Homo sapiens: one gene and its partners. The protein of the gene in region 1 interacts with the protein of each later gene in a pairwise test. Each region holds a gene or a part of one and is shown in the gene's direction. Other genes may lie near its edges.

What was found. Proteins that work in one complex are often made in the same cells at the same time.
Region 2: the proteins of FKBP7 (region 1) and H4C7 interact in binary tests that used the Homo sapiens proteins (3 or more experiments, as listed by UniProt).
Region 3: the proteins of FKBP7 (region 1) and MAN2B2 interact in binary tests that used the Homo sapiens proteins (3 or more experiments, as listed by UniProt).
Region 4: the proteins of FKBP7 (region 1) and FAM3C interact in binary tests that used the Homo sapiens proteins (3 or more experiments, as listed by UniProt).

The regions. Positions count from the first base shown.
Region 1 is NC_000002.12:178,468,601-178,472,100, reverse strand, and holds part of FKBP7 (peptidyl-prolyl cis-trans isomerase FKBP7 isoform a precursor), read left to right. Parts: intron 1-576; exon of another isoform or gene 577-664; intron 665-2,315; coding exon 2,316-2,449; intron 2,450-3,500. UniProt on the Homo sapiens protein: PPIases accelerate the folding of proteins during protein synthesis.
Region 2 is NC_000006.12:26,246,111-26,248,417, reverse strand, and holds H4C7 (histone H4-like protein type G), read left to right. Parts: upstream 1-1,421; 5' UTR 1,422-1,440; coding exon 1,441-1,737; 3' UTR 1,738-1,807; downstream 1,808-2,307. UniProt on the Homo sapiens protein: Core component of nucleosome. Nucleosomes wrap and compact DNA into chromatin, limiting DNA accessibility to the cellular machineries which require DNA as a template.
Region 3 is NC_000004.12:6,595,689-6,599,188, forward strand, and holds part of MAN2B2 (epididymis-specific alpha-mannosidase isoform 1 precursor), read left to right. Parts: intron 1-1,424; coding exon 1,425-1,615; intron 1,616-2,509; coding exon 2,510-2,666; intron 2,667-3,500.
Region 4 is NC_000007.14:121,348,378-121,351,308, reverse strand, and holds the end of FAM3C (protein FAM3C precursor), read left to right. Parts: intron 1-39; coding exon 40-166; intron 167-758; coding exon 759-848; 3' UTR 849-2,431; downstream 2,432-2,931. UniProt on the Homo sapiens protein: May be involved in retinal laminar formation. Promotes epithelial to mesenchymal transition.

The DNA.
Region 1 (3,500 bases):
CTGTCTCAAAAAAAAAAAAAAACGAAAAGAAAAGAAATTTGAATTTGTGTTTTGAGTTTGCCTTGAATTATTGTCAGGAGACAATAATTCTGTCATAAGGAGATAACTGGAAAAAATAGGAATGGGTTTTATAAAACAATCATTGACTCAATCTCTAGCTCTTCTACTCTAAAGTCAGGTAATATGTGGTGCATTAGGTTAGGACTTTTATGTTAGTCATATGATGCATGGGTAGATCTTTCTATGTTTTCTCTTTGAAAACTACTAATCTGCTACTCCTTTTGGCTATAACTCACAAACTCTTTTCTCTTCAGACTATATAAAGACTTTAGCTAGAATGCTTCACTTTTTTATTAAAGAAATTGCTGTTTCCTTCCAAGGACAAACATTTTAAAAATAAATGATATGGGTCATTCATTCGGCAAATATTGGACTGCCTGTAGTAGATTAGGCACTGTGTAGGACACTGGCAATATACTGATGACACAAGCTACCCGCTGCCCCTTAGCAAGTCATTTTTGCAAGTCACTTTTATGACATATTTATCTGAAATAGCCCATCACTTATTAAAATCACCTGTGACATCATGGCCTGGCACGGTGACTCACGCCTGTAATCCCAGCACTTTGGGAGGCCAAGGTGGGTGGATCCTTTGAGGTCAGGAGTTTGAGACCAGCCTGGCCAACATGGTGAAACCCCATCTCTATTAATAAAGTATAAAAAATTAGCCAGGATTGGTGGCAGGCACCTGTAATCCCAGCTGCTCGGGAGGCTGAGGCAGGAGAATTGCTTGAACCTGGGAGGCAGAGGTTACAGTGAGCCGAGATCGTGCCATTGCACTCCAGCCTGGGTGACAGAGGAAGATTCTTGTCTAAAAAAAAAAAAAAAATCTGTGACATCAGCTAATAGGTTAACTTAATTAAAGAGAGCAATTCTGGCCAGGCACAGTGGCTCACATCTGTAATCCTAGCACTTAGGGAGGCCAAGGCAAGCGGATCACCTGAGGTCAGGAGTTCAAGACTAGCCTGGCCAACATAGTGAAACCCCATCTCTACTAATAATGCAATGCCTGGTGTGCACCTGTAATCCCAGGTACTCAGGAGGCTGAGGTAGGAGAATGGCTTGAACCCAAGAGGCAGAGGCTGCAGTAAGCGGAGATTGCACCACTGCACTCCAGCCTGGGAAACAGAGTGAGACGCCGTCTCAAAAAAAATAAATAAAAATAAAAATAGGTATTCAACTTATTGCTTAAAAATGTATACAATTTCTTTGTAAAATTGTTACTGAATTTTTATTTTAATTCTTTTTTTTTTTAATAGAGACAGGGTCTCACTATGTTGCCCAGTTTGGTCTCAAACTCCTGGGCTCAAGTGATCCTCCTGTCTCGGTCTCCCAGAGTGCTAGAATTACACGTGTGAGCCACTGTGCCCAGCCTGTTACTGGATTTTTCTATCATTGCACTTATTTTTTAATGTCTATAAAAAATTTGAAAGACAAATATATTAATACTTATGTTTTATTTATGCTTCCAAATAACTACACAAAATCACTTTCTAAAAGATGACTCATCTATGCTTTGCAATTTTTCTGCCCATGCATTTCTTCTCTGTGCCACCTCTCTTCTGTGTTGATGATAGGAGAGTACAGTTGTCTCTCAGTACCTGTTAGAGATTGGTTCCAAGACCTTCTCATGGATTCCAAAATCCACAGAAGCTCAAGCCCCTGATACAAAATGGCATCACATTTGCACATAACCTCTGGACATCTTCCGGTGTACTTTAAATTATCTCTAGATTACTTATAATATCTAATACAATGTAAATGTTATGTAAAAGATTGTTATATTGTATTGGTTAGGGAATAATGACAAGACAAAAGTCTGTACATGTTTATTACAGACACAACTATCCTTTTTTTGTATGAATATTTTCAAGCCGAGACTGGTTGAATCCACAGATGCAGAACCCACAGATATAGAGGGTCATATCCATGCATTAATAAAAAGTTTATGATTTTTACTTAAATTAATCAAGAAATAGTGGTCCCATAGGTCCTTTGAATTGACTTGGTTTGGAAACATATGGAAAAAATATTCCTAAAAAAGTATTTATAAAAAAAAGAGAAAAAAAAACAAAAAAGAAAACTATTGAAAAGCCGAAAAAAGTTATAAAAGATGAGAAAAAATTAAAAATTGTGAGTATTCAGATAGCAATTCTTATCAACATGAAATAATATAATATGGTTATGGCAGTTCATGAATAGATATTTGAACTATATCTTTACATAAGTTAAACTGTTAAAATTTATACCCTTAGCAGAAGGCAAGATTCCACCGGATGCTACATTGATTTTTGAGATTGAACTTTATGCTGTGACCAAAGGACCACGGAGCATTGAGACATTTAAACAAATAGACATGGACAATGACAGGCAGCTCTCTAAAGCCGAGGTAATTCAAACCAATTTCATGTGTATAGTCTAATTTTTTTATCACAGTTTAAATACATCTGTGTTACAACTATTACTTTTTAGGTCTAGCTAGCATGGGCTCTGATCACTGCTTTTATAGAGCTGGTCACTAAAAAATAATCTAAGCGCTTAGAAAAAGCTCTAAGCTTTTTCAGTATAAACCTTGTGAGTCATCCTGTTCAATTGCCTTTCTCCCTGCAAGAGAGTCATTAAAATCCCGAATTATTTGTCTCTACAGTGCTCTTCCAGTTTCTAGATTACACTAGCATATCTCTTTTTCAGACAGCACTGTAAGAATTTGCAACAGGGCAAATAATTCACGCCTCATAGGATGATGAAAAGAGCTAGCAAGGGTCTGAATTGAGTGGGCTAGAAAGTTGGTAAACAGGAGCCAGAAGTTCAGCCAGCTAGCGTCTGTATCTCAGCCTTGTAATAAAGATCTTGTAATAATAATGATAATTGGGCTGGGCATGTGGCTCATGCCTATAATCTCAACACTTTGAGAGGCCGAGGTGGGAGGATTGCTTGAGCCCAGGAGTTCAAGACCAGCCTGGGCAACACAGGGAGACCCCCGTCTCTACAAAAGATTTAATAAATTAGCCAGGCATGGTGGTGCATACCTGTGGTCCCAGCTACTCAGGAGGCTGAGAGGTAGGAGGATCGCTTGAGCCCAGGAGGTTGGGGCTGCAGTGAGCTGTGATCATGCCACTGCACTCCAGCCTGGAAGATAGACTGAGACCTTGCCTCCAAAAAAAAAAAAAAGATAATAATAGATAACATTTATTTTATACTTTTAGTACCAGGTACTATTTATAAGCACATAAGTATGTGAACTTATGTAATCTTCATGATAGTTTATGGGGCAGACACTATTGTCATCATCTTCGCTTTTAGATGGGGAAAATAATAATCAGGTTAATCAGCCAAAAATCACACAGTAGTAAGGGGCAAAACCTGGGCAATCTGGCTTCATGACTGTTCTTACATTTCAATTTTTTAAATTTTTCTTAGAGACAGGGTCTTTCTCTGTT
Region 2 (2,307 bases), on another chromosome or scaffold:
ATGACAGCTTTCCCTGAGTTTCCTGTTGTATCAACCCCAGAAGACAGTCACCCCCTGTACCTTCTGTCCTCCACATGAGAACAGGGCATGGAGCCTCTGGCAATTTACATTATCTTTTTTCTGGGCAATTCTTCATTGCTTAATTGTATAGTGCTTAATATAAGTGAAAGCACACTGAATGTATTGGTGTTGCAAAGGCAATGTTTTAAAATCCTTCGGTGTGCTTTACCTCTGCATTATTATTTTGTCTGTAAAAAAAGGCTGTGGCAATAAGAATTCGTTTACCAACTGGCCGGTGAGGTGGCTCACGCCTGTAATCCCAGCACTTTGGGAGGCCAAGGCGGGCGGATCACCTGAGGGCAGGAGTTGGAGACCAGCCTGGCCAACGTGAAATCTGGTCTCTACTAAAATACAAAAATGAGCCGGGAGTGGTGGCACATACCTGTAATTCCAGCTACTTGGGAGGCCGAGGTAGGAGAATAGCTTGAACCCAGAAGGTGGAGGTTGCAGTGGGCAGAGATTGCGCCATTGCACTCCAGCCTGGGCAACAAGAGCGAAACTCCGTATTTTAAAAAAAAATCATTTACTAACTATATGCCAGTGTTTTGCTTAAAGTAACTCAATTATTAACAAGTATTTACCCTTTTTACAGATAGGGCCATTGAAACTCAGATTAACATGTCTAATATCGGTGAGAGAGCAGTCACTCACAGATTCGAAACCAAAAACCAGGCTACTTCTCTTTAGCTGGGCGGCTTGGCAATATGATTAGGAATTCTTTTATGTCTTGGAATTTGGGCTTGTTTCAACTTCAGCATGGTAAATGCTCTAATATACAGGGAAGGAGTAAATCTTTTTTTTTTCTTTTTTGAGACGGGCTTCGCCCTTGCCCAGGCTAGAGTGCAGTGACGTGATCTCGGCTCACTGCAGGCTCCACCCCACGGGGTTCATGCCATTCTTCTGCCTCAGCCTCCTGCATAGCTGGGACTACAGGCGCCCGCCACCTCGCCCTGCTAATTTTTTGTATTTTTATTAGAGACAGGGTTTCACCGTGTTAGCCAGGATGGTCTCGATCTCCTGAGCTCGTGATCCGCCCGCCTCGGCCTCCAAAAGTGCTGGGATTACAGGCGTGAGCCACCGCGCCCGGCCAGGAGTAAATCTTTAAACACATACAGACATCAAAAATCGAGATACTTTCCTCTAGGTACATGTTTGACACTTTCGTTTAGAGATCCTTATTCTCTAAATGCCAGCAAATCTCCCTACTACAAGAGAATTTCTTATGTCTTGTTATTACTAGAAGTAGATGAGCGGGGACTGAATACGTTTTCCCGCCTTTCCTGGTCTTTCAGTTTTCAAAAAGGTCTACTCTACCGTTATATAAAAGGCTGCGGAAAGCGAGTAATCGTTTTGTTTAGAGATAGTTCTGACTTGTTTATCATGTCTGTTCGGGGCAAGGCCGGAAAAGGCCTTGGGAAAGGCGGTGCCAAGTGCCATCGCAAGGTACTGAGCGATAATATTCAGGGCATTACCAAGTGCACTATCCGGCGCTTGGCCCGGCATGGCGGTGTCAAGCGCATCTTGGGCCTCATTTATGAGGAGACCCGCCGGGTGTTCAAGGTGTTCCTGGAAAATGTGATCTGGTACGCCGTGACCAACACGGAGCACGCCAAGCGCAAGACGGTCACCGCCATGGCCGTGGTCTACGTGCTCAAACGCCAGGGAAGAACCCTGTAAGGCTTTGGCGGTTAAGTGAGGCCAGGCCTTTCCTTGCAATATCGTTAATGGCCCTTTTCAGGGCCGCGTACGTTTTCTTCCGAAGGGCTCACGTTTGACATTGTGGAAACTTAACTAACGCACTCAGCAATATTGTGTGTTTTATTGCTGTAGGTGCCCAAAAGCTGTTAGGTGTATAATGCTGTAAAGTATAAATTTACGCCAAGGCTGACATACAACATGGAATACAGGTGGTAAGTTAATCGTGTGTTCAGAGATTAGAAATCTGGTGGGCTGGCTGAGGACATCAACGGCTACATTGTCACTTAAAAGCTCTCAAAATGTGGTTATGGTAGTGTGTTTTTCTCCTTACTGTTAGGATTACCCTCCGTAATTAAAATTGTAGTTTTAGTGCCAAGATAACCCGACTTTTATATTCTGCTTAATAAGCAATTTCAATAACCAGAGAATACACAATAATTAGCACAAACTTGCCAGGTGCCGTTCTGACAAATGTGTCTGCAGTGGAGGGACTGGCCCCCTTGCTAGTTCAATGATCTAATTTAGCAGCACTAAAAGAAGTTTACCTGT
Region 3 (3,500 bases), on another chromosome or scaffold:
AGTCACAATGGCAATTAAATTTTAACATGGGTTTTGGAGGGGCATTCAAACCATAACATTTCCCTTCCAAAGAGATGCCACAGATGAACTCCAGCTGCAGGGCTCATTCTGGCCTGGGCACTGCCTTGACTCACCCATGACCTGGCTTAGTCCTGCCTCTCTGGGCCCCAGCCTCTGGGTCTGCATGGTGACCAGTGGGGCTGCATAGTCCCCGGCTCCTGCTGTTGACACCACATTGGAGGCAGGTGGGGCTGCACACACGGGTTGGGGGATGTCCGTGGATGTGGGTGTGGTTATAGTCAAGGCAGGAGGAGATATGTTAATGTGGGCATGGCTAATGGTGAGGTGGGTGGGGTAGTGACTGTGGGTGTGGCCACATCTAGCAGGTAGGGATATACCCGAGTCAAGTTGGGTGTGGCTCTGTCCAGGTGGGCGTGGTGTCCAGGTGGGCGTGGTATCCAGGTGGGCGTGGTATCCAGGCGGGTGTGGGTGGGCGTGGCGTCCAGGTGGGCGTGGTATCCAGGCGGGCATGGTATCGTGATGACCACTGAGGATGTGGAGCCCCTGCCAGACTGAATGGAATCGGGCCTCACCACCCACTCTCAACATGGCTGCAAAGCTGTGGAGGACCCCATCTGACCCACAGGGTGTGGCCTGTCCCCTGGGCCATGTGACCACCCCTCCCAGTCTGGTTCAGGACCAGTGGGGGAAGAACAGGGAATCAAGGCAAATCTGGGCACATCCCAGACGCCGAGGAGCAGGAAAGCAAAAGCAATAGGAAGCTCCCTTCTGAGACAGACAGCCACTCCCTGGGAGGGTTCAGCCCTCCTGCCTCCTGCATGGGCCCTGGGCATCCTCATCCTCTCTGTCTTGCATCAGGACACTGGCTCCCTGGGGTCTCTGAGCCCTTGCTGCCTCCTACCATCCATCCTCCCTGGACGCCCAGAGAATCCCTGCTGAAACGCATGCCTGTCCTGGCCTCCCCATGCCCACGTCACACATGAAGGCCTCTGTGCAGTCTAGGCCCTTCTCAGTGGGGTCCTGCCCACCTGGCTCCTCCTCTTCCCCTCTGGGTCTCCCAGGCCCTTTGCTCACACAGCTGTTCTGTGTTTCCTAGGCACCCTGGGCTTGCCTCCGATCAGGATCCTTCAGCACCCCACCCCACCTGCCCCAGTGCAGCCTGTCTCTCCCACCCTGCCCAAGGCCCATCCAGGGTTTTCTGGGCAGTTCCTAGTCTGGCTATGGGAGGAGGCCTGAGTTGGGAGCCGTAAGCCCTGGGCTCGCTGCCTGCCCGGCCTGCCTCCTTGGGTGACCCTGGCAGAGGCTGCCTCTGCAGCCCCAGCTTCTCAGCTCTTCCAGGGCTGGAGCTTAGCAGACTTCTGGGTCATGCCGTCTCAAGCTCACCATCTTCCCTTGTCTCCCAGAACCATTCCAGGCCTGGACGGGCTTCTACACGTCCCGCAGCTCACTGAAGGGGCTGGCCCGGCGAGCCAGCGCCTTGTTGTATGCCGGGGAGTCCATGTTCACACGCTACCTGTGGCCGGCCCCCCGTGGGCATCTGGACCCCACCTGGGCCCTGCAGCAGCTCCAGCAGCTTCGCTGGGCCGTCTCCGAGGTAACACCACATTTAGCCACAGTGGCAGGATTGGAACCTCCCATGCTGCGCACCTCCCCTCCCTTGTCCTAGCCAATCCTTCCAGCCCTGGGGCACTAGAGGCCCCACTTTACAGAGGGGAAACTGAGGTTCCCTTTGGTTACAAGGCCAGTGCATGGTGAACCCAGGCCAAGGCTGAGACCACAGCCTGATCCATCCAGCTGGTGGCCTCATTAAGCTTTGTAGCAGTTTAGCAAAAGGGATAAAGGACAAGGTGGAGTGGCATTTGTGTCCGACAGCCCTGCCTGCATCCATATCTCGGCTCAGCTGTGTGATGTCAGGCACATGATTCCCACACCCACCCAAGACCTAATTCCCTCCTGTACAATGAGAACAACGAGCTTGCCCAGGAGGACGGTGGGGCAATTGGATGTGCTGGTGTGCACAGCCTGCTTGGTGCAGTGGCTGCTGAATAGCCAGTTCATGAGTTTCCGTCTCCACCCATCCCCTACTGTACTGATGGGAAAACAGACCCAAGACAGCCTGTAACTTGTCCTCAGTCACCTATCCAAAAAAGGGTCACACCAGCCATGACACTGTAACAGTTCCCCAAAAGGAGCTGCTGGCAGAACATGTCATTATGTTGTGGGAGAAATGAGGTGACTTCAGGGTCCTTCAGAGCAGGGGGTCCAGAGATGGGGGACAATGAGTTCCCACAAGGGCAGGAAAAGTTGGGCGAGCTCCTCAGCTTCTCTTGGCCTCAGTTCCTCCTTCTGTAAAATGGCGGGGACTGCCCCCTTCTCCACTGGCACCTGGCAAGCCAGAATGAGAGCCAGCGCCTAGTAGGTGCCTTGTAGGTGCTTTGCAGAGTCAGGTCCTGATCCTGTTCTTCCTCCCCTCTGGGGGTTGCTGCAGGTCCAGCACCATGATGCCATCACTGGGACTGAGTCCCCCAAGGTGAGAGACATGTACGCAACGCACCTGGCCTCGGGGATGCTGGGCATGCGCAAGCTGATGGCCTCCATCGTCCTAGATGAGCTCCAGCCCCAGGCACCCATGGCGGCCAGCTCCGGTGAGCAGGGCCCTGCAGGGAGGCTGTGGCCCCTTTATGAAGGGAGAGCCTGAGGAGGTCAGGGGAGGGGCTCAACGACCCCAGCTTCAGACTCTGAGTCCACATCACCCATATCGCCCTTCCCCATGGTGAGAGCTCGGACAGGTGGCTTCAGTCCTCCCAGCCTCTGTTTGCTCATCCGTGCAATGAGGAAGGGTTGCTGATGTTACAAGAAGAGCCAGAAATAGCAGCTAACATGTTTTGAGCATTTACTAAGCTCAAAATACCCTTCATGCAGTATTGAATTTAATGCCTCACAAAATCTGTACAAAATAGGAATGGTTACTGTCCTCATTTTACAGCCGAGGAAACGGACTCAAGTTATATGCTAGCCCAGGGCCACTCGGGTAGGAAGGAGCAGAGCAGGGATTGAACCTGAACACGGTGCTGCCCAGCCTTGGCAGAGAGTACGCCGGTGTCCTCAGGGGCCCGGTCCCTTCCTGGCTCCTGGCACTCCCTCCCGAACTCCACTTGGCTGACATCACAGCAGGGCAGCCGTGGGACCAGCCTCTTTGACTGTGAGTTTTCCCACGTGTAGAGTGACTGATCACATGCCAGTGTGCCTGGGACTGAGGGGTTTCCAAACTGGGAAGATCCTGGACAAATGAAGACAGGTTGGCGGCCCTCCGCCCGCATGAGACTTTTGTGTGCATAGGCCGCCAGGTCCCACCCACAGCCTGCACCTGGTCATCTTGCACTTCCTTCTTGTTTTTTGTTTTTTGAGACAGGGTCTCGCTGTGTCACCTAGGCTGGAGTGCAGTGGTGCCAGTCATAGGTCACTGCTGCCTTAGACTC
Region 4 (2,931 bases), on another chromosome or scaffold:
CCTCTGTTTATTGTTGTATTCTTTCTCTCCCTCTTCAAGACTCAATGATGAGGCACGGCGGCTCATTGCTGATTTGGGGAGCACATCTATTACTAATCTTGGTTTTAGAGACAACTGGGTCTTCTGTGGTGGGAAGGGCATTAAGACAAAAAGCCCTTTTGAACAGGTTAGTGTCATAGACTCTCAGAATTAACAAAAACAAATTCTGTGAAACCTTACGGTACATTTTCCCATCCCAGCTATTTGAAAATTAGATAAAGCGGATAGTAAATATGATCATATATTTGTCATAAATTCTTGGTAATCAGTTATTTGAAATAACTATCGTACTTTTAAATTTCAAAACTTGAAAATTCTGCATGGGAATATTTTTTCCTACAGGACAATGCATTGGAATAGGATTACCTATCTTAAGCCTTTTCGGAAGCTTTAGTTATTAAGGATTTTAATTGAGCTTTGGATTTTAGAATCAGTGAAGTTTGGAAATATTTTAGAACTTAGTAGAATGTAAATGTTAGTTTTTGAGTAGCAAATAATCCTTTAAAAGCACGTGCAATGTATTCTTTCAGCTGTTATTTGAAGGTCTGCCATGTATGTGATACAGCCTGAGGGTCACTCATTTAATATCTTGACCAGTAATTTAAATGAACTTATTGTTGACATGAGTATTACTGAAATGAGAAGTGTGTAAAATGTTACGGCAAATCAGCAGTTTACAACGGTTTTTTAAACTGTATATTATTACTGTGTTCCAATAGCACATAAAGAACAATAAGGATACAAACAAATATGAAGGATGGCCTGAAGTTGTAGAAATGGAAGGATGCATCCCCCAGAAGCAAGACTAATGGAAATGTGGAGAGAATTGAAGAAAGCGCACTTTCACTCTTAATGGGAGAGCTATAAATGGCAGAGCTATGTGTAAATATTTTAAGAGCATGCAGCCATCTTGGTGTGTGCATGAGTATTGTCTCTTTTGATATCAGGATTATTTATTGCTAACGTAAATAGATAGCATTGTAAATAATCATCACAATGATCAAATCACTGAACCATGTCTCCGCACATTTCCCTAAAAGTACAATGTTTAGACTGCTATGGTAATACATATTTTAAATTCTAAAAGCATACACAATGTGTAACTGAATGGTTTGTGAAAAATATATTGATATATATACTAGTTGCTATGAAAATATCATGGAATAATAGGGATTTTAGGGTGGATACTTTATTTTCTTTTATGTTTCTATATGTTGCGTTGTGATGACATTATCTTTTAAATTAAAAAGAGATTTGGCTAGTTGTGTGTGTAATGTTACTTTACAGTCCGACTCTCCTGATGTACCTCTTTTCATGATCTTTTTCTTTCCTTCCCAAGAAACTGAGGAATGTTTAATATGAAAACATACATCGGATATGTGAAAAGCACAACAAAATTCTTAATGTACACAGTAAAAAAGTAAATATATAAATGTAGATGGCATTTAGGACCACAGCTTGCTGGATTTGTGTTAGCTATGGGAATAACTTGATTTTGTATAAGCTATTTAGAGTGAGGCTGGAGGTGGCAGCTTCACAGAACTGGAGAACCAGGCCAAGTCCCCTCCCCAACCTAATTAGGTCATTCAGGACAGCTAAGTCAGTATATTTAGAGCAATACTAGCATACGTTTTTCTTAATTGTTATCAGCATTGACCAAGTGGTTTGGAAGGAGGCATGCTTTAATATCACAATAATTTTGATTTGTAAACCAAGAAATTAATCCTGTGTTTATCTAACTTCATAATAGCAATTATTGCCCGAAGCTATAGTGGCATATTTACAAAAGTTCTTATTACTGGGCGGACTGATAACATTTAAAAAATAATTGTGTTTGACCCCAAATGACTTTATACCCAATTCTACATAAAAATATAGAAGATCTATCTTTTTTTGTTACCTTCAGATGTTCACTAAATAACTCAGTTTTTAAGCAGAAGTTTTCAGGGCATTAAATATATGTTGTGTATGAAGTATCTCAAACTGGAACATAAATTTAGTGATCAAACTGCCATTCACAGTGTAAGGCAGCACTTAAATTTCGAACCTAAAGTTTAGATGCATTGTATAAAAAAACCTAAAAGCAGTATCTGTTATTTAGCTGTAAACCAAGTTGGAAGCTATTCGGATAATTTCTTAAATATTGATGAACTTTGGAGTACTGTTTCTTCCTTCAAACTGAATGTAATTAATTCATGAATAAATGCACCTTATATGTTTAAACAATCTTTGTATACTTTTGGGATTTTTGGTGCTTATATGCTAAATCACATTCAGCATGTGTATTTTGACATTTAAAATACTTCCCTCAATTCTGTAAATTAAAAGAATAGTTATTTTACAGTTCCAGGGATTGTGAAATAAATGTTGCAGTTTTTTAAAATAATGAAAATAAATACTCTTGGTTTTGCTTTGTGAATTTTTTTTTTTTTTTGTATTATCTGGCAAAGTAATATACCTACAGAACTTCACAAAAACTCACACAAGGTTTTTCAAGCATTTATTATACTGCCTAACTTGGAAAAAAAATTGTTGCTGTGGTTAAAAATAGTAATATCCTAGATGTGTCTTAACATGTAAGAAGCTAAGTATCTAGATGGCGGAAAAAGCCCTTTTATTAAGACTGTAAAAGGATAGCTTTTCCAGATATATAAAATGTTAAAAGAAGACAAAGATTGGTTATGTTAACTGGTGTGGTTTCCTTTTGTCTCAGTTCAATCTTGTATAGATTGTGCCAACTTAACTTTGAAAGCAATAACTTTATACTACATTTTCAGATACCTCTTTAAAATCGGTTTTAGACATGAAACAGTGCTCATTTAATATTAAGAATGTTCTTTATTAAAATCAAATTAACATTGACATAGTATTTGAAATGGTGCTTATGGGCTT